2 separate regions of the Homo sapiens genome follow, and region 2 is linked to region 1. A link means that fine-mapping ties the variant in region 1 to the expression of a gene that starts in the linked region. Tissue or cell type: monocytes after triphosphate RNA. Region 1 holds a variant in brackets; the other region holds the start of a gene. All regions are shown on one strand. Distances are from middle to middle.

What was found. PIP is the estimated chance that this variant, and not a neighbour inherited with it, causes the effect.
Region 2: it holds the start of POLR3E, and the variant in region 1 is fine-mapped to the expression of POLR3E in monocytes after triphosphate RNA (Kim-Hellmuth 2017, PIP 0.95). The same link has a PIP of 0.9 or more in B cells, CD8 T cells, NK cells, monocytes and monocytes after interferon gamma.

What each region holds. Positions count from the first base shown.
Region 1 is chr16:22,328,837-22,339,660 of GRCh38, reverse strand. POLR3E (RNA polymerase III subunit E) reads right to left here. Exons shown (of 21, transcript NM_018119.4): 20 at 7,476-7,601; 21 at 4,565-6,017. The coding sequence ends at 5,961. LOC124903664 (a long non-coding RNA gene) reads left to right here. Exons shown (of 2, transcript XR_007065026.1): 2 at 1,179-5,751. Among named protein-coding and RNA genes, the nearest start is that of POLR3E, 37 kb to the right of the region's middle. The variant C/T (reference allele first, on the strand shown) is at 5,791.
Region 2 is chr16:22,291,524-22,302,347 of GRCh38, reverse strand. POLR3E (RNA polymerase III subunit E) reads right to left here and starts at 4,939. Exons shown (of 21, transcript NM_018119.4): 1 at 4,811-4,939. TRL-AAG2-4 (tRNA-Leu (anticodon AAG) 2-4) reads right to left here and starts at 5,208; the gene lies at 5,127-5,208. RefSeq lists silencers at 1,566-1,860, 3,719-3,858, 4,869-5,318 and enhancers at 4,069-4,208, 4,651-5,195.

The DNA.
Region 1 (10,824 bases):
CTTGGCCTCCCAAAGTGCTGGGATTACAGGCATGAGCCACCGTGCCTGGCCTGATCCTTTGTATTTCTATGGAATCAGTTGTAATGTCTTCCCTTCTCCCTCTCCCTTCTTTCCTTTCTTTCTTTCTTTCTTACAAGGTCTCACTCTTATCGCCCAAGCTGGAGTGCAGTGGTGGGATCTCAGCTCACTACAACATTCCCTTCCCAGGCTCAAGTGATTCTCCTACCTCAGCCTCCCAAGTAGCTGGGATTACAGGTGCCTGCCACCATGCCCAGCAAATTTTTGTATTTTTTAGTAGAGATGGGGTTCACCATATTGACCAGGCTGATCTCAAACTCCTGACCTCAGGTGATCCACCTGCCTTGGCCTCCCAAAGTGCTGGGATTATCTTTTTCCATTTCTAATTCTATGAGAGTCTTCTCTATTTTTTCTTAGCTAGAAGTTTGTCAATTTTATCTTTTCAAGAAACCAACTGAATTTTGTTGATCTTTTCATTTTTTTCAGCTCTGGTCTTTACTATTTCCTTTCTTTTATTTATTTTTGAGACGTAGTCTTGCTCTGGTCTTTATTATTTCCATTTATGTATATATGTATGTATTTTTGAGATGGAGTCTTGCTCTGTTACCCAGGCTGGAGTGCAGTAGCGTAATCTCATCTCACTGCAACCTCCGTCTCCCAGGTTCAAGCGATTCTTCTGCCTCAGCCTCCCGAGTAGCTGGGACTATAGGAGCGTGTCACCATACATGGCTAATTTTTTTGCATTTTTAGTAGAGATGGGGTTTTTCCATGTTGGTCAGGCTAGTCTCAAACCCCTGACCTCAGGTGATCTGCCCACCTTGGCCTCCCAAAGTGCTGGGATTACAGGTGTGAGCCACCTCACCTGGCCTATTTCCTTTTATTAACTGGGCCTAGTTCTTTTTATTTTCCTGGTGCCTTGAGGTGTAACATTGGGTTGTTTATCTGAAGTCTTTTCTTTCTGATGTGGGTGGGGATTGCTATAAACTTCTGTCTCAGAGCTGCTTTTGTTGTATTTCATGTTTTGTGTCCATTTTTGTCTCAAGATATTTTTAAAATTTTTCCTTTTAGTTTTTTTCATTGGCCTATTTGTTGTTCAGGAGCATGTTTAATTTCCACGTATTTGTAAATTTTCTGAAATTCCTCCTGTTACTGATTTCTAGTTTCATACCATTGTGGTCAGAAAAGATACCGCCCTAATATATGATCTGTCCTGGAGAATATTCCATGTATGCTCGAGAAGAATGTGTATTCTGCTGTTGGATGGAATCTCCTGTATATGGTAGGTCCATTTTGTTTAATGTGTAAAATCTGATGCTTTCTTATTGATTTTTTTTTTTTTTTTTGGCCTTGATCTGTCCATTACTGAAAGTGGGATATTGAAATCCCCTACTATTATTGTATTACAGTCTGTCTCTCCATTCAGAGCTATTCATATTTGCTTTCTATATTTAGGTGCTCAGATATTGAGTGAATATTTACAGTTGTTAAGTGACCCCTTTATCATTATACTGTGACCTTGTCTCATTTTACAGTTTTGACTTAAAGTTTGTTTTATCTAATGTAAGTATAGCTCTCTTGTTCTCTTTTGGTTTCTATTTGCATGAAATGCCATTTTCCATTCCTTCACTTTCAGTCTCTATGTGTCCCTTACAGGTTAAATGAGACACTTTTTGGCAGCATATAGTTAGATCTTTTTTTTTTTTTTAATCCAGCCACTCCGTTTTTGGATTATGGAAGAGTTAAACCATTTACATTCACAGTAAATGGATTGGAGAATTTAATCCATTTACATTCACAGTAGTAACTCCTTACCTATCCCTGTTGGTAGGTAAGGAGTTACTACTGCAATTTTGTTGTTTTCTGGTTGTTTTGTAGATCCTTTGTTTCTCTCTTACTGTCTTCCTTTGTGATTTATTTTCTTTAGAGGTATGCTTTGATTCCTTTTTATCTTTTGCATATCTGCTATAGGTTTTTGCTTTGTGGTTATCATGAAGCTTATGTAAAACACAGTGATAGCAGACTATTTTAAGCAGATAACTTTGATTGCATTAAAAACTATACTTTATTCTCTCTCCCACATTTTGTTTTTGAGGTCACAATTTACAAGTTTTATATTTTGTATCCCTTAACAAATTAGCTATTAATAGTTTTATCTTTTAACCTTTATACTAAAGATAAGCAATATATATACCACCATTACAGTATTAGAGTATTCTTGAGTTTGACATTATGCTTTTACCAGGTTTATACTTTCATATGTTTTCATGTTACTAATTAACATCCTTTTCTACCAGCTTGAACTCCCTTTCACATTTTTTTGTAAACACAGAGCTGGTGATGATGAAATGCTTCAGCTTTTGTCTGTCTGGGAATGTCTTTTTCTCCATTTCTGAAGTTTTGCTGGATAAAGTATTCATGGTTGGCAATTTGTTCTCCTTTAGCACTCTGAATATATCATCCTACTCTCTCCTGGCCTGTAAGGTTTCTGCTGAGAAGTGCTAGCCTTATTGGAACTCCCTTATATGTGATCTGCTTCTTTTCTCTAGCTGCTTTTAGGATCTTCCCCTTTGTCTTTTGATTTTTGACAATTTCATTATAATGTGTCGTGGTATAGTTTTGTTCATACTGAATCTGATTGGAGACTTTTGATACTCTTATACCTGGATATTTATATCTTTCTCCAGATCTGGAAGGTTTTCTGCTACTATTTTGTGATTTATTTCTTTCTTCTCCTTACTGAACTTCTATAACTCAAATATTTGCTCTTTTGATGCTGTCCTATAAATCCCTTAAGCTTTCTTCATTCCTTTTCATTCTTTTTGTTCTTCTGGCTATATTTTCAAATAATCTGTCTTTGAGTTCATAGATTCTCTGCTTGATCAATTCTGTTGATGCTCACTATTCCATTTTTCATTTCATTCATATTATTTTTCAGCTTCAGAATGGTTTGTAAAAAATATATAACTTCAATCTATTAGGTTTCTTGATTTGGTTTTCTTTATTTTGTTGAGTTATATCTGTGTATTTTCTTGAAGTTTGCTGAACTTCCTTAAAACTATTTTGAGTTGTCAGGCAGTTCATAAATCTCCATTTCTTTAGGGTAGATTTCTGGTGCTTTATTTTGTTACTTTGGTGATAGCATGTCTCCCTGATTGTTCTTGATCCTTGTGGTCATATGTTGATGTCTGTACATTGGATGAAGTGGTAAGGACTGATTCTAATCTTTGCAGTCTGACTTTGCCTGGAACAGCCGTTTACCAGTGAGCCCATTCAGAGATTCTGGGCAAGTTGTCTGGTGTGGTCTTCTGTGGGCAGGCTTGTTGCTGGAGTCCTTGAGCAGGCTGACCTAGTACCTAGGTCAGCAGATGGATGAGCCTGGTGCTTGCATGCATAGGATTAATCCTGGAACGTAGGTCCAGTGGAGTGGGCCAGTTGATTGGGTCTGCAGGGGTACAACCAGAGCCTGAGTCCACAAGGGCAGGCCTGGAGCCTGCATCCAGGGAGCTGACCTGAAGCCTAAAAACCTGCAGGGGTGGGCCTAGGTTCTGGGTCCATAGGGACTGTTCTGGAGCCTCAGTCCGCCAGGGCATGCCTGGCATTGAGGCTTACTGAGGTATGTGCCTGGAACCTGGGTCCACTGGAGCCTGGTGCTGAGGCACACATGGACCTTGGGTCCAGGGGTATTGTACTGGAGCCTGGGATTGTGGGTGCTGGCATGGGGGCATATAGATCAGCCTGGAGCCAGGGGTATATAGATACTGGCCTGGAGATTAGTCTCTGAGGGCTCGCTTGGATCCTGGGGCCATGGGGGCTGGCCTAGAACCTGGGGCTGCAGGGGATATTGGAGCCTAGTCTGTGAGGGCCAGCCCAGTGCTGGGGTTTACTCAGATGGGGCTGGACCAGGGTGGGGAGGGGGTGCCTGCTAGAGTGTGAGCTCATGGGTGCAGGCCTGGCAGTGGGTATGCTTAGAGCCTGTGTTCCTGGCGCAGGCCTGGAGTCTGGGGCTGGCATGATTTTGGGGTCCAATGTTCTCCTTCCTCCAAGTAGAGGGTCTCTCTCTCTCTCTCTCTCTCTCTCTCTCCACCCTGTGCTGCCTGGGGCTGGGGAGGGGGTAAGCTAGGTAATGTAAAATTGTCCCTCCTATCCTCTTTAGTACATCTTATTTCTGTGGTACACCAAGGTGCTGTAATCTCTAGAGGTTCCTTAACTCTTGTGAAGGTATTTTTGTGTGTGGACAGTTGTTTAAATTCATGTTTCTGCAGGGGGATGAGTGCTGGAAAGTCCTATTCTGACATCCCAAGTTCCCTCAATTTTTTTTAAAACAATAGTTCCCTCCTATATTCCTTGTTTCTTTTTCTTGCTATTTGAGTTTGGTGTTTTAACCAGTTCTTTTTATCAATGTAAAGTATTTAAGGCTCTGACTTCTCCACTGAGCCAATTAAGTTCTGCAAGGTGATGGGACTAACATTCTGTGCCGTCCCACATGAGCATTTCCCCTTTCAAAGTGAGAAGGAAGTAGGATGGAAAAGCTGAGACATATTCCAAATCGCTTTTGGTAACTTTACTTTTCAGGTTCACATATGTTAACAGAATCAATACACGATCAACTTGTTAAGTGATGTTACCAAATACTTATTTGGCAAAGTACATCCTTGATCAATGCCTTAGTGATTCTATAGCTAAAATATTAGATGTTTTATTTTGGGGGGAGTGGGGAAATAGCATAGACCGTCATTTAAACCTTCAGACAATTAGTGACTGTGTTGTACAAAAAAGATGGCGAAAGCCTTATCTAGATACCAAAATTCACATGTCATCCAACCTAGCTTACTCTTATTTTTTCCATCAGTTTCTAGGGCTGTGCTATCCAATACTGTCGCAAATAGCCCCATGTGGCATCGGAGCACTTATGATGTGGCTAGTCCAAACTGAGTGTTGAGGAAAGTGTAAAATGCCAGATTTTGAAGACTTTTACCTTATGTTGATGTTTTAGATATTTTGAGCTAAATAATATGCTAACATGACCTTTTTAAACTAATGTGGTTGCTAGAAACTTTCAAAATTATGTACGTGACTCGCCTCTTTCTAGTGGACAGTGCTGCTCTGTCTTCCTCCATTAGCTCCGTTCCCTCTAGATACACGTAACGCTGAGCCCAACAAGATCGCCTTCCTGTAACCATTTGAAGATAGCACCATGATGCTAGTTTAGTGTTTGCATTTATTTTAAAAATACACAAAATAGAAATTTTTACATCAAAGTGTGATAACCTCACTTACACATTGTTCCATACTTACCTGGTTTTGTTTGCATCTTTCTGCAAACATTAAAAGGAGATGGATTTGATTCTGATTTTTTTGCTATGGTTCATGTAAACAGTTGAGACTGCTACATAAAGTAGGTTGTTGTCAAAGGTGAAGTGGCCACAGAATCCCAAGAATAGAATAATTCAATTTGGTTTAATGAAATTGGTGGAGGTCTTAGCAGATAGATAATCCAAGACTAAATATTGTCTTCTAGGCATTTTAAAAATTAAGAACTTTGAGGTTTTCTTCATGTTGTAAACATAACTTAGACCTTGTTGGCATTAAGTTTACAAAAGAAAATATTAAACCATGATTTTTATCATCCTGCCCATGTCAGTATACACTCTCTTTATTATGAGAATGAAACCAAATAATAAGCAAAATACATCAGGAATTTCAAATTGTACTGCAAAGAAGGTCCCAGCTGGTCTCTTCTGGGAGTGATCTAACTAACTTAAGCTGACCCTG[C/T]GACTGGCTGAGGATAATCCCTTCTGTCCACTGCACCGTGCAATGCCACAGGTCATGAGATGGTCAGTTCCTCTTGCTCTGTGTCGTCTGAAGCAAGTCGAGGCCCTACTTCTGGTTCCGCCCTTCTTCCTTGGGCTTAGATTTGCTGGGTTAGTAGTTTGCTACTATTGTCAAGACTGTACTGTCCCTTTAAGGTACCACATGCCACCATAGCTTACACAGCAGTCCTATGAGAGAGAAACAGGGTAAGCACAGATTTTTGCAGGAAAAGGAGCTAATTACATTCTGTCCACAATGTCAACACTCGATTTATGATTAGTGAATAGAATACAAATGGGAAATCAAAAACTGCCTAACCATACCACCATGGCTACTACCAGCCACCCTTTCCTCAGGGGTAGTGTTTTTTTTTTTTTTTGAAACAGAGTTTTGCTCTTGTTACCCAGGCTGGAGTGCAACGGCATGATCTTGGCTCACTGCAGCCTCTGCCTCCCAGGTTCAAGCGATTCTCCTGCCTCAGCCTCCCAAGTAGCTGGGATTACAGGCATGTACCACTACGCCTGGCTAATTTTGTATTTTTAGTAGAGATGGGGTTTCTCCATGTTGGTCAGGCTGGTCTCAAACTCCTGACCTCAAGTGACCCACCCACCTCAGCCTCCCAAAGCGCTGGGATTACAGGTGTGAGCCACCGCGCCTGGCCATTCCTCAGGGGCATTTTAAAAGTGAGGGTGGGCCAGGCATGGTGGCTCACACCTGTAATCCCAGCTACTTAGGAGGCTGAGGCAGGAGAATTGCTTGAAACTGGGAGGTAGAGGTTGCGGTGAGCCGAGATTGTGCTACTGCACTCTAGCCTGGGCAACAAGAGCAAAACTCCATCTCAAAAAAAAAAAAAAAAAAAAAAAAGGGGGTCTACGAAATACAGATACTGACATGCCCAGAACAAGGGTGCTTAAAAAACAGTATTACTTATATGGCTCTGGATGTTTAATCAAAACAAGACATTGTCATCAGTTTTCTGTCTCTCAGTGTTGCTGCAAATATGGTTGGTATTTGTACTACAGTCACTTCAGAAAAGCATTATAGGTTGTACATTAGGTGCTTTCATATAGTAAACAGATCATATTCCTTTTTAAACTAAATTTAAGAATGGATTCTACTGAAAGTCATGTGTGTGGCTATGGCAACAATCAGAAGATAGTTCAAAATTCAAGGGAGAGTAGAGTGAGGATTCTCAACTAGGCCCTATCATTTTAGAAGACGCCTACCCACTGCCAAGCTCATCCAACCTACCATATTTTTTTGTTGTTCTATTGTTTTAGGCTCTTAGCAGCCTGAAGCCATGGTTTTTAGTTTCTGTCTCTAGTGACAAGCAGAGAAGAGGGATGAAAGGGGCATTACTGGCCTGGCCCAACCAGAAAGAGAAACAAAGCATCCATGGCTGTATTCTTTCCCTTGGACACCACTGTGACTATATTGTTTGAAGGGGTCAGTCCTCTGGCACATACCCCCTTCCCCAACCAATGCCAATCAATCAATCATTAACAGTTGCTCAAGACAAGACTGACTGGGGAGTGGTCCCAAGGAAGCCTGATTTCATATACACAAAGACACTAGAGTCCCTTCTACACACTGTCAGCCCCTTCCAGAGCCTTTGATATTGTTTGTTATGCACAAAATGGATGTACCTTTAGTACTTTATCCACCTCCTGTTTACTGAGATCTTCTCCACACTCTTGAGTCAACCGAGACTGGATCATGTTTCGGCGTACCCGGTAATTTTTGGAAAAAATTTCAAGCAAAACCTGTCGATGCTTTAGTAGCAAAAACACGTTATGATGGGAAACAGTGATCTAAAAAGAGAAACATCCCCAAACAAGACACCCAAGCCATGCACCTGACTTTGTGTTGCAGTCTCTGATAAAAACCCTCACGCAGCACCTCTGGTTAAAGATGAGCCAAGTCATCTCTAGAGACCCAGCAAGACAGTGTACAGAAATAAAAACACAAAAGTAAAGGCATTAATGCTATGTCTGGAAACTTGAATATAAATAAAAACAAAGGTATATGCCAGCATAACAAAAGAACTGGTGAAGAGACATGAGAGGATGAGTGGCTTGAACATATTTCTGCATGGTAAAATGCAGGCGTGCATCGGACTTAGCAAGCAGGTGAAGCGACAATCTAAGCTGCACGGAGATGAGAAGAGGGTGTCAAAATTGGTGTGAAGTCTTAATGCACAAACATGCCACTGCATCCATGAAACAGGATGCCGTAAAATACGTTACACCCCAAAATAAAAATGGAAAAGATTGGATTCAGTATGTCTAATATCTGTCATAAGAATTCTGAAAAAAACAAAAAAAAGTAACAACTCACAGGATTTTATAAGAACTCAATTGTCTAGTACAATAATGACCCGCACCAGGGCACAGCTGAAATGGCACTGACTGATATACAGAATAATGAAAAATTCTGCAGTTTGGCATAAAGGAAAGAATACAGGCCAAATTTAAAAGACCAAGAAGGAGAATGTTATGGAATTTCAACAACTCTGAAAACTTAAACAATGGAAACTCTCTTAAAGATGCTTCATGCCGGGCGCAGAGGCTCACGCCTGCAATCCCAGCACTTGGGGAGACCGAGGCAGGCGGATTACCTGAGGTCAGGAGTTCGAGACCAGCCTGTCCAACGTGGTGAAACTCCGTCTCTACTAAAAATACAAAAATCAGCCACGCGTGGTGGCACACGCCTATAATCCCAGCTACTCAGGAGGCTGAGGCGGAGGTTGCAGTGAGCCGAGATCGTGCCATTGCACTCCAGCCTGGCTGACAGAGGGAGACTCTGTCTCAAAAAAAAAAAAAAAAAAAAAAAAAAAAAAAAAAGGATGCTTCATGTATCACTATTTGTCTAGGACTAGAATTTTGAGAGGCAAATCATTTGATCACGTAAAAATAGAAACTTTGATAACCTCACACATTGTTCCATACTTAGCTGGTTTTGTTTGCATCTTTCTGCAAACATTAAGAGGAGATGGATTTGATTCTCCTTTTTTTTTGCTATGGTTCATGTAAACAGCTGACTGCTACATGAAGTATCCTTTGCCTCTTAAAATTCTAGTCCCAGACAAACAGTAATACTGTATTGTAATCCATTTTAAGACATGAAAGAATGCAGACAACTCCTCTGTCTCTTCAGAAGCTAAAGCAAGGAAGAAGCAGAGATTCCAGAATTCAGCAACAGACATGGGGAAGAGCGAGTCTCACTGGAGAAGCAGAGGGAGAGGCTTCCCGGGAACCAGGCTTAATTAAGCAAAGTATCACCCTCGGTACACATGTGTTCAGAAAATTACACAAGTGAAAACAGGAAGCAGTGAACAAGGAAATGCAATCATAGTATATTACTGATGTTTGGCTCTACAATGGATAGATTTTCAGTTCATTCTGTGACAATGCTATAAACAATGATAGCCAATTAAAAAGAGGTAAAGGCCTGGTGTGGTGGCTCACGCTTGTAATCCCAGCACTTTGGAAGGCCAAGGCAGGCAGATCATTTGAGGCCAGGAGTTCGAGACCAGCCTGGCCAACATGGTGGGACCACCCCCCGACCCCTACCACCGCGATCTCTACTAAAAATACAAAAATTAGCTGGGTGAGGCAGCACAAGCCCGTAATCCCAGCTACCCGGGTGGCTGAGGCACAAGAATCGCTTGAACGCAAGAGGCGTGAGCTGAGATGGCACCACTGCACTCCAGGCCTAGATGACAGAGCAAGAGCAAGAGCAAGACGCTATCTATCTCAAAAAAAAAAAAAAAACTGGCGTAACATATCTATCTCTACAGTCTCCTAAAATAGTTGAGAGCTAAATCTCATCCACCACAATGGGAAGCCCATTGCTAATGACAGGCTGATTTTTTTTTTTAAATGGGGGCAGCTATTTTAGTGGTATCTTTTGGTGATGTAAATGCCTATGATCCTAGCACTTTGGGAGGCTGAGGCAGGAGAACTGCTTGAGGCCAGGAGTTCAAGACTAGCCTGGCCAACATAGTGAGACCCTGTTTCTATTAAAAAAGTAGTAATAAAAGTGGTCACCTCTGAGGGGTGGCAGTCAGGTCCAGCAGTGCAAGAGCTTTCCTATTAAAACTTCTAGTCTGATTTGATGTTTAAAAATCTGCATTTATGACTTTTGTTTTTTTGCCTTTTTGTTATCAAAGTATTTCAGATACCCTCTATTCTGGACAAAAGCACTCAAGCTTGCTCAGGAAAAGGCCCCAGCCCCTTAGATCCTCAGCCTGCCAGTTGGCTCCCCTAAGAGGCAGCTGGGGACAGAGAGCTCAGTGGGATTTCTGCTGACTCCCTTCTCCCCACACCTTAGGAGCAGGGCCTAGACACGGTCAGACCGACTGGCGTTTCGACCATCAAATTAGGTACGTTCACGGCCTAAGAAAAGCTGGGATGCAGGGTCCATGACTACACCACACACACGCAAGGCGCTGCTGCTTCCACTCACATTTCTGGGCACTGGACACCTGTGACCCTCCCCATCACAGTATGACTAGAGGCAAAATGACCAATTTCTTTAACCTAAAAGTCCAGGACCTGACATCTGACAAGGAATCCTTTTGATTCCTGCTGCCAGAGGCCGCCTGAGAAATGTGCTTCACCAGTGCTCTATAAGCCTGGCTGGATCAGAGTTGCTCAGGAAGCTTTACAGAAATTCAGATACCTAGGACAGTACCGCATACCTACTGAACAGAACTGAATCTATGTTTTTTTTTTTTTTCTTTCTGAGACACAGTCTTGCTCTGTCGCCCAGTCTGGAGTGCAGTGGTGCAATCTCGGTTCACTGCAACCTCTCTCTCCCAGGTTCAAGCAATTCTGTCTCAGCCTCCCACGACTATGGGCATTTTTAGTAGAGATGGGGTTTCACCATATTGGTCAGGCTGGTGTCAAACTCCCAACCTCAGGTGATCCACCCACCTTGGCCTCCCAAAGTGCTGGGATTACAGGCGTGAGCCACTACGCCCAGCCTGTATTT
Region 2 (10,824 bases), 37 kb after region 1:
TTTATAATGAACAGACTGGAACTCAGAGATACTGTGTGCATTTTGACCCAAAGTCACATAGCAAGCAGGATGATGAACTGGACTTCAAATCCAGGCTGTCTGACCTCAGGTGACAGGTACAGGTAGGGGAGTTGAGAGGCGGGAAAGGCCTTTCTGCTGGGGAGGAGGCACGTTAGGTGCGCCTGGAAGAAGAGAGAGCTTTGGGCAAGTCATGACAACAGAGGGGAGGAGAAATTCCAGGAAGAGGGAAGGCTGTAGGTCTCCACGGGGCAGGTTGAGTATTTCAGCTGGTCTGCCCCTTCACATACCCAAAGAGAAGAGGGGTGGTCATAGGTAGGATGGTACTCAGGCACCCCCAGGCCTCAGCAGTTCCCAAACCTCTGCTCTTGGGTGAGACTAGCATGAATTTTTTTTTTTTTTTTTCTTGAGACGGAGTCTTGCTCTGTCACCCAGGCTGGAGTGCGGTGGTACGATCGGCTCACTGCAACCTCTGCCTCCCGGGTTCAAGCGATTCTTGCCTTAGCCTCCCAAGTAGCTGGGATTACAGGCATGCACCACCAGGCCCGGCTAATTTTTCTATTTTTAGTAGAGACAGGGACTTGCCATGTTGGCCAGGTTAGTCTTGAATTCCTGACCTCAGGTGATCTGCCCGCCTTGGTTTCCCAAAGTGCTGGGATTACAGGCGTGAGCCACTGCGCCCGGCTGAGACCAGCATGATTTTTGTCTGATCTACTTAACATTTGAACTATCTAATATTTATTTATTTTTAAGACATGTCTTGCTCTGTCACCCAGGTTGAAGTGCTCTGCCGTGATTTTGACTCACTGCAACCTCTGCTTCTTAGGTTCAAGTGATTCTCCTGCCTCAGCCTCCCAAGTAGCTGCAATAATTGGCATGCACCATCCGCTCAGCTAATTTTTGTATTTTCAGTAGAGACGGGGCTTTGCCATATTGGCCAGGCTGGTCTCGAACTCCTGGCCTCAAGTGATTCACCTGTGTTGGCCTCCCAAAGTGCTGGGATTACAGGCATGAGCCACCACACCTAGACAAAAGCCAAAGTCTTTATCATCCCATGTAAACCCTAAACAATCTCCTGCCCCTTGACCTGCCAGACCTCATCTCCCACAAGCCTCCTACCCTCCTCTCTGCTCCAAACCCACTTCTGGGGCTTTGTAGCTGCTCTACCCCCCCGATAACCTCATGGTCCCCCCTTCACCTCTTTCCGGTTTTTGCTCAAATGTCACCTTGTGGCTAAGACCTTCCCTCTCCAAATCACATTGCAAACTGCCTCCCCCACCCCTCAATTCCCTTCTCTGCTCTGGTTTTCTCCATAGCAGGTGTCTATCACCATGTGACAGTTTACAGCTCTGCATCTGTGCCCATCTCTATTGCCACTAAGCTGTAAGCTATGTGAAGGCAGAGATTTTGGTCTATTTTGTCCCTTGTGGTACCCCAAGTGCCTAGTACACAGCAGGCACTCAATACATGTTTGTTGTCTAAATAAATGAACCATGGGAATGCTATTTAATAGGAAGCTACAGAAGGATTTCGGGCAGAGGAAGACATGGAGCGGGTAGAAAGAGAAACTTCAGGGAAACAGCTATCGTAACAGTCCCAGAGATGGAGGATGGAATGAAAATCAGGAGTCGCATCTGGACAGTTTCAGTGCATCTCGACTGTCTGCTGTGCAGACAGAGGGCAGTGTAGAGCGGAGAGCCCAAGGCCTCACCCCATCTGCACCGGCTGCCAAGTGCCACAGATATGTCAAGCTCCTGCCTTCTCTGCAGCTGGGCAGTGGACAACTGAGAGGCTGGGGCCTGGGAGGTTCCCAAGACGCAATTGTTCTTTCTTGGCTATTGCTATGCCCTGTTGGCCTCTGCCCTGCCAGGGATCAGGGAGGCTGAGGTGCCCTGTCAGCTAGAGAGCTGGAGCTCCTTCCTCTGGATAGTACATCTGGGTTGATACAAAGAGTGTCACCTCCCTTCATCCTCCAGGCCGAGGTGATCCAACTCAGTGGCTTTCAAAGTTTTCAGCCTAAGATCCACCACAGTAAGAAATCCATCTCATATAAATAACCCAGAACATACATACAGTTGCATAACTGAAACAAGGTTTCACGTAACTATAACTGTCCCTACTATATGTCAGGCCGTGATGTTTTCTACTTCATTCAAAACAAAAAATGCTAGCTTCAATTCCCTTAAATTGATTTTACTTCCCACTAATAAATTTTAACCTGCAATGTGAAAAGCACTCATCCAAGTCTCCCTACGGCTCCTTATACCTACCTCCAAGTCTCCCAGCAACAGTGAGTCTTTGGAAAGAAGTAAATCAGGCTGGCATGGTGGCTCATGCCGGTAATCCCAACACTTTGGGAGGCTTAGGTGGAAGGACTGCTTGAGACCAGGAGTTCGAGACCAGCCTGAGCAACATAGTGAGGCGCCCCCCGCCCCCCGGTCTCTCTTTAAAAAAAAATTTTAGCCTGGCATGGCCTGCAGTCCCAACTACTTGGGAAGCTGAGGCAGCAGGATTGGTTGAACCCAGGAGTTTGAGGCTGCAGTGAGCTATGATCACACCACTGCGCTCCATCCTGGGTCACAGTGTGAGACTCGATCTCTACTGGGGGGAAAACAAAGCCAGGCACGGTGGCTCACACCTGTAATCCCAGCACTTTGGGAGGCCGAGGCAGGCGGATCACCTGAGGTCAGGAGTTCCAGAAAAGCCTGGCCAATAAGGTGAAACCCCGTCTCTACTTAAAATACAAAAATTAGCCAGGCGTGGTGATGCACGCCTGTAATCCCAGCTACTCGGGAGGCTGAGGCAGAAGAATCACTTGAACCCAGAAGGCAGAGGTTGCAGTGAGCCGAGATCTTGCCACTGCACTCTAGTCTGGGCAACGGAACAAGACTCCATCTCAAAAAAAAAAAAAAAAAAAAAGTAAATCATATTATTTCCCTGCCTAAGACCTGTCAACTGCCACTGTCACATAAAATAAAACCCAAACTCCTTTCCATGAGCCACCTAAGGCCCTACATAATCTTGTCTCTGTCTTCCCCTCACCATCCAGGCTGGTAGCCACTTGCTGGGCCTCCAACAAGGCAAGCCCCAGTCCACCCCAGGTCCTTTGCACATCATCTATTCTCCCACAGGGATTTCCAAGGTTGCTCCTTTTTATTAAATATCATCACCGCCTGCAGGAGAGGATAGGTTCCCTGACCACCCTATTTTAAAAGCCTCCCCCAGCCTCCTCCCAGGCCCTACCACATCTCTGTTTTCTTTCCTTGGTGGGTCTCATCTTAATCTGGAACTACCTGGTCTATTTGCTCAGGTGTTGTTTGTCTTCTGCAATAGAACGTAAGCTCCATGAAGGCTTCTCAGTGCTTCAGTTTCCTCAACTATGAAATGCAGACAATCATACTTTACTTCATCAAAGCTGTTATGGGGAGCATTACTTTAAAAAAAAAATCCAGTGCTGGTTCTCTCAATACCTAGAACAGTGCCTGGCACGAAGTTGACACTCAATATAGTACAAAGAATACTTTATATTTAATCTTCTCATTAGCCCTATCAATAGAGATTTATCATCTTCAATTTGGAAATGACGAGACTGAGGTTCAGATATAAGCAACTCATCCAAGGTGGAATGAGGACAGAAACTTGGGTCTCGCTATGTCAAAGATCCTTATTCTTATTCTTAACCACTATACTGCACGGTTTTCTGATAAACGGCAGTATGGTTAAGTGGGTAAGAGCTTGGACCCGAGAACAAAACTGTGCAGGTTCAAATCCCACCACAGCTGCTTGGCATCTGTGACCCACCTGAGTTGTCTGGGTTTGGTATTCCTCCCTATTTTCATCCCTAAAGTAGGGAAACTAAGTACCGACCTCCAGACCCCTGCGGGGAAGGAGTAAGGACAGGACGCTAATAAACGTAACCTCTGGGAAGGTTTGTTATTACTTGACAACATGTTTTCTGCCAACGTAAGCGGGTAATGACGCTAAGCCACAAGTCAAACGCTGCAAGCAGGAGCGTCACCCGGTTTCTACTGAGCCGTCACCACAACCCTATGAGGTAGGAATTTCTATTATCTCTATTTCACAGATGAGGAAACTGTGGAGATCGCTAAGATCTCTTCTTTCCGCCTCCAAGCCCAAGGAATTCTAAAGCTAACCCAAAGGAACGACCTTGTTTGTTTACTGACACCTCCTCGGACCGAATGGTCAGGGCTGTATCCGGAACACAGAGTTGGCTCGGTAAACACTGAATGGTTGCCTGAATAAATGAATGAGGAATCCCTGGCCTCGCCGGGCAGAGGCTAATCCGGTTCAGCTGCGAAGTGGGGGCTCCGGCAGGCGCAGGTGCCCTCCCTGCCCATCGGGGCGGGCCGCCGATCCCGAGCCTCGCTGTCCAATGGGTTTCTGCTCCCTCGCGGGTGGTCAGGCCCCCCTTCTCACGCCCACCACGCAGTCCCTGCCGCGAGCCGCCACTACACCCGACGCGCGGACAGGTGTTTCTTCCGTAGGAGGCCTCCCAGGCCCGGATAGGGCAGGTCGGCTGGACCCTGAGTCACCGCCGCCAGCGTCGGCCGCGGCCTCCCCAACTCCCAGGTGTCAGGTCAAGGAAGTCAGAGTCCGGGGTCGGCCTGGAGCCGGCTGCCCCTCCTCCCCGCCCGAGTCCCGAGAGGCCTCCAGCTGCTAGGCACAGCGCGGCGCGGGCCTCCTTGGCCTACTCGGGAATCTAGCCCAGGCCCACGTCGTGAGTGCGGTCCGGCTCAAGCCCCAGCTCGGGCACTGCCAAGACGGGACTCACCTCTCCGCGGGGGCCGAGCGCGGACGGCGGCAACGGCCCAGTTACCCGCGGGCTGCAGAGACGGCGGCGGCCCGGCTCTCCTCTCAGGCGGCGGCCATGTTGCTGGTGGAGAAACTCCGGCGGACACGTGGGGGGGAGCGGGCCGGCCCCAGCGTTTCCTCTTACCCACAATGCCCCGCCCCGGTGCACGCGGCTCCGCCCCCTCCGCCGCGCCATTCATGCAGGCCGTGAGCCCCGCCCTGCAGCAGGGGGCGCTGATGGCACGCGCAAAACTGAGCCAGGAGTGTATGCAGCGGGGACAAAAAGACAGCAACCCTGGCAGCGGTGGGATTCGAACCCACGCCCCCGAAGAGACTGGAGCCTTAATCCAGCGCCTTAGACCGCTCGGCCACGCTACCCAGCTGCAATATGTTTATGCCAGAAAGCTACTTAATGCTTTTGCTTTTGCATTTAATCTGGACATTGCGAGGCGTTTTCGCTGAGGTTTTTTTTTTGCTTAACGTGTGTTCAAGGTGATCCCTATAGAATTATTTTAAAAAGCCGTGTTTTGGAAAATAAACACTTGCTCCAGTCTTTAGACCCAGGTTGGTTCCGAATAGGTATTAGAGCAAAACGCATTTTTAGAAACTTTACTCTGAGTTGGATGGTTAACCCGGAGACCCCTGGTTAACCCACAGGTAATCCATACGACCCGGATTGGGTGTCTCCGGGAGAAGAAATTGATCTGATCAGAAACATGCACCAGGGGATCTGACGGCCAAACCCTGGAGCTGGTCTGGGCAGTTGTCTCTGAAAAATTATGTTTAAATTTTTACTTACACAAATAACACGCGAATTATTGCAAAATATTTAAACTTTGCAGATAAGGTACAAATGCTCTTTGACCTTGACTCGCATCCTAGGCCCCTCCGCCGAGGTAACTAACCATTATTATCTGTTTAATATGAACTATGGTTTGAATGTGTCCCCCAAATTTCATGTGTTGGAAATTTAATCCCCAATGTGGCAGTATTGTGTGGTGGGCCCTTTAAGAGGTGATTAGATCATGAGGGTGGAGCCCTTATGAATGGATTAATCTCTTCATGGATTCATGGATTAATGGGTTAATGGATTAATGGGTTATCTTGGGAGGGGGACTGATGGCTTTATAAGAAGAGGGAGAGAGACCTTAGCTAGCAAGGGAGCAGCTCAGCACCCCCTCCATATGATGGCTTGTACTGCCTGGGAACTCTGCAGGTGTCCCCCACCAGCAAGAAGGCCCTCACCAGATGCACACTCTTGACCTTGGACTTCTCAGACTCCATAACTGTAAGAAATAACTTCCTTTTCTTTACAAATTACCCAGTTTCAGGTATTCTGTTATAAGCAACAGAAAATGGACTAAAACACTATATATCTTTCTAGATCTTTTGCTGTGAATTTATATGTTTATATCTATATGGATATATATAGATATAGCCATAGAAGATAGCTTTGTTTTTATTGTGTATGGATTTGAACACAAATATTGTCACATTATTCATATAGATCTGCAATTGGCTGTTATTTTTCACCAGACTGTATTTTAAAATACCTATCCGTGTGGATATGCAAAGATATTAAAAACAAAAATGCACAAAAATTACAAAGAAAAAAATTATCATCCATAGTGCCACCACCTGGCATTAAATTAATGACTTAGTATTGTGGCATTTTTTTCCTTTTCTTTTTTCTTTTCTTTTTTTTTTTTTTTTTTTTTTTTTTTTTTGATGTGGAGTCTCGCTCTTGCTGTCTAGGCTGGAGTGCAGTGGTGCGATCTCCGCTCACTGCAATCTCTGCCTCCTGGGTTCAAGCGTCTCTACTAAAAATACAAAAATTAGCCTGGCGTGGTGGCACATGCCTGTAATCCCAGCTACTCGGGAGGCTGAGGCGGGAGAGTTGCTTGAACCCGGGAGGCGGAGGTTGCAGCGAGCCGAGATCCCACCACTGCACTCTAGCCTGGGCGACAGTGAGAAACTCGGTCTCAAATAAATAAATAAATAAATAAATAAATAAATAAATAAATAAATAAAAAATAGATCACACTATTACAAATAGAAATTATTAGACCATTGCAAATAGAAATAAGTCCCCCTCCCATTCTCCCCTGTCTATAACTGTCATGAATTTGATGTGTATCTTTCCAATAATTTCTTACATTTTTACTATAAAATTTATGAATAATATCTAAAATGGTTATCTGTATGTTTTTCACTTATATAAATGTTAGCACATTGTACTGATATCCTAAAACTTGCTTTTCTCATTTCAACAGTATTATTATTATTATTATTTTAAGAGAGTGTTGCTCTGTCACCCAGGCTAGAGTACAGTGGTGCAATCATAGCTTACTGTAGCCTAGACCTCCCGGGCTCAAGCCATCCTCCCACCTCAGCTTCCCAAGTAGCCAAGATTACAGGCATGAGAGACTGTGCCAGGCCCAACATTATGTTTTTGAGGTCTGTTATGATGCCTATAGATCTAATTCATTCATTCCATGCCATGTACAACTTTTAAGTTGTTACTAAATTTTTGTCATTACACACAATATGGCAGGAAGTATCCTTGCACATGGCTCCTTGTCTTACGTATGGACATTTCTCTAGGGTATACACTAGAAATGAAATTGCTGGTCTATATTTATACTTTCCCTAGTATTATATAATAATAATATTAATAATAGGCTGGTCTCAGTGGCTCACTCCTATAATCCTAGCACTTTGGGAGACTGAGGTGGCAGGATTGCTTGACGCCAGGAGTTCAAGACCAGCCTAAGCAACATCGAGAAACCTTGTCTCTACCAAAAAACAAAAGAAAAGAAATTAGCCGGGCATGGTGGCATGTGCCTGTAGTCTCAGCTACTTGGGAGGCCGAGGTGGGAAGATCCTTTGAGCCAGGGAGGTCAAGTCTGCAGTGAGCCGAGATTCAGGTGCTGCACTCCAGCCTGGGTGAGAGAGTGAGACCCTCTCTATATAGATATAGATATGCATATATTTTTCCATTTTGCCAAATTATATGACTTTTGATGACTTTTTTTTTTTTTCTATTTCTTCCTGAGTCAACTTTGGCAAGTTGTCGTTTTCTGGGAAAACAAAGCCCCATTACTTGATTTTTCACATTTATTGGCGTAAGAAATCTCAAATATCCCTCATATCTAAGGTTTTGTCCTCTATCATTCTCTATCGTTTCTCTTTCCCTCTGTCATTTACGTGGATTACTTTCTCCATTAGTTCTGTTCAACACAGGGAGTGGAGTCAATGCTTAAGGTGACTGAATGGGGGAATTAGGCAGGAACTCTACGAACGCTGGTGATGCTTTAGACACATCAAAAACTATATAAATCACACTTTTATAAGTAGAATTCTCATTTTGCATTGACTGGTATTAGACTTTTCAGGGCCATGATTCAAGTTTCTGGCTAATATCCAGTTGGTACACACCCCTAACATTTGGGCATTTTATGTCTTTCCTCTTCAATCCCTCCTTAGCCTGGCTTTTCTCCCCCTCCATCCACCACCTTTTTTTTTTTTTTTTTTAGAGAGACGGGGTCTTGCTTTGTTGCCCAGGCTGGAGTACAGTGGTATGATCACAGCTCACTGCAGCCTTGACATCCTGGGCTCAAATGATCCTCCCATCTCAGCCTCCCAAGTAGCTGGGACTAGAGCCACGCGCCACCACACTGGGCTAACTTTTGTATTTTTGTAGAGACGGGGTCTTGCTTTGCTGCTTAGGCTGATCTCAAGCTATCCTCCCACCTCAGCCTCCCAAAGTGCTAGAATTACAGGAGTGAGCCACCACACCTGGCCATCCATCTACCTTTAACATATGTAATGATATGCAAAGATTTTCTTGTGCTAGAAAAGTTTGTTGCTCTTCAAGACATTAAAAAAAAATACAGAAGCAGCCATGGATTGAAGACAAAGGGTAGGCATTGTGGGGAGTTCAAAGCTGAATGAGGAATAACCCCTTTAAGTCAATAGGAGTGTTTGTCATGGTATTTTAGTACCAGGAAGGACTTTGTTTGTGAGTTGGGTACTGGATTTTCCAAAAGGAAATATCCTCACAGTCAAGGATAATTGCTGGCATCTTTGCCCAGTCTGATTTTTCTAGGAACTGCCTGACCAGCCAGAGAGTGGGTCCCTGGCAGCCACCTTTGTGCTGCACGCCCCACCCCCACAGCCATGGCTAGTGGGTTCTACCGTTCTTCAGTGGACGTAGGATTCAGGTTGGACCAATCAAATTCTCTCTTGAGAATGTGAACTGAGACTCCGTGAGTTACTGATTTTGTTTTTTTTTTGTTTGTTTGTTTGTTTTGAGACAGAGTCTCGATCCATTGCCTAGGCTGGAGTGCACTGGCGTGATCTCGGCTCACTGCAACCTCTGCCTCCCAAGTTCAAACAATTATCCTGCCTCAGCCTCCCAGGTAGTTGGGATTACAGATGCACGCCACCATGCCGGGCTAATTTTTTTGTGTTTTTATTAGAGATGGGGCTTCACCATGTTGGCTAGGCTGGTTTCGAACTCCTGACCTCAAGTGATCTGCCCACCTCAGCTTCCCAAAGTGTTAGGATTACAGGCGTGAGCCCCCGCACCCGGCCCGATTTGTTAATTTGACCGTGTTGCGTTGGAATTAGTCTCTGAGGCTGGCTAAAACTAGGAAGAAAGGGGGATTTCGCATGGCTATATTCTGTGAGGTGAGTTGGAGAGGTAGACAAAAGCCAGTGTATAGAAAAAGAGGGAATGAGAGAGTGAGAAGAGCAGAGTCAGGGAAATCCTGATGGTTTTCTGGCTTCCAGCTCCAGACCCTTTCCAAGGCCCAGTGGGTTGTCCACTCTTGGAGGCATCCCTTTATCACTGTAATAAATTCCCTTTCTCTGCTAAAGCCCAGTGCTACTTGGTAGTTGTCAACTGTAAACAATAACCCCCTCCCCCTTGCAAGGCAAAGGCTCAAATGAAGCTGTGTGTGTGTCTTTGTGTGTGTGTGTGTGTGTGTGTGTGTGTAGAATTTTTTTTTTTTTTTTTGAGACAAGTTCTTGCTCTGTTTCCCAGGCTGGAGTGCAGTGGCACAATCATTGCTCACTGCAGCCTTGACCTTCTGTGCTAAAATGATCCTCCCATCTTAGTCTCCTTAGTTGCTGGGACTGCAGGAGCATGACACCATGCCTGGCTACTTAAAATTTTTTTTTTTTTCACAGAGACAGGGGTCTCGCTATGTTGCCAGGACCGGTCTTGAACTCCTAAGGCTGAGATATTTCTGCTAGAACATTCTGGAGCAACTTGTCTCTTTCTACAAACACATACTGAGCAGGATGCTTAATTAAGAGGAAGCCTGCAGGGAAACAGCTGATCCTGGAAGGCACAGCACCCTTTTGAGAGTTTCTTACAGTCCAGCAGCCCCTTACACAGTTTTCTCATGACAATCAGACATGAAATCAATGAGCAAGAGATGCAGAATGTTGCATCAGAACCCCTGGACCTACAAGGTCTCAGCAGCGGGATGCCTGACAAGGGAGGGATGGGCTGAAACTCCGACTATTCTTTGTGTGCCTGTCCCTATATCATAAACACTAGGCTGTGGATAGTGGAAATGGGTGTGGGGTCTCAGTCCTGGATCCCCTCCATTCTTTCCTCCCTTGCTCCCATAAAAGGAAAATGCTCTCAAACCTGGCCTGAGACCATATCTTTCTGTAAGAACCTCCTTCTGGAAAGAAACTAGCATTTCTGATAAATGCTCGAGCATTGAGCATTTTTCTTTTGAAATTTAAGAGCATTGAGATTTACACTGGGAAACTAGCTTTCTACTCACTCAGTTGATGGTCATTTGTCAGTCAAGAGTGCAGTGACCTTTAACGGAACATTCTTTTCTTTTCTATTTTGTCTAACAGTGATTATCTAATCATTTTCTTCTCCTAGAAAATGTCTCTATCAAGATAGAGGTCAGAAGAGTGGCCAACATTTTTCGGGGTGGAGAGAGGGTGTATTGCCTGGGAAGGGGT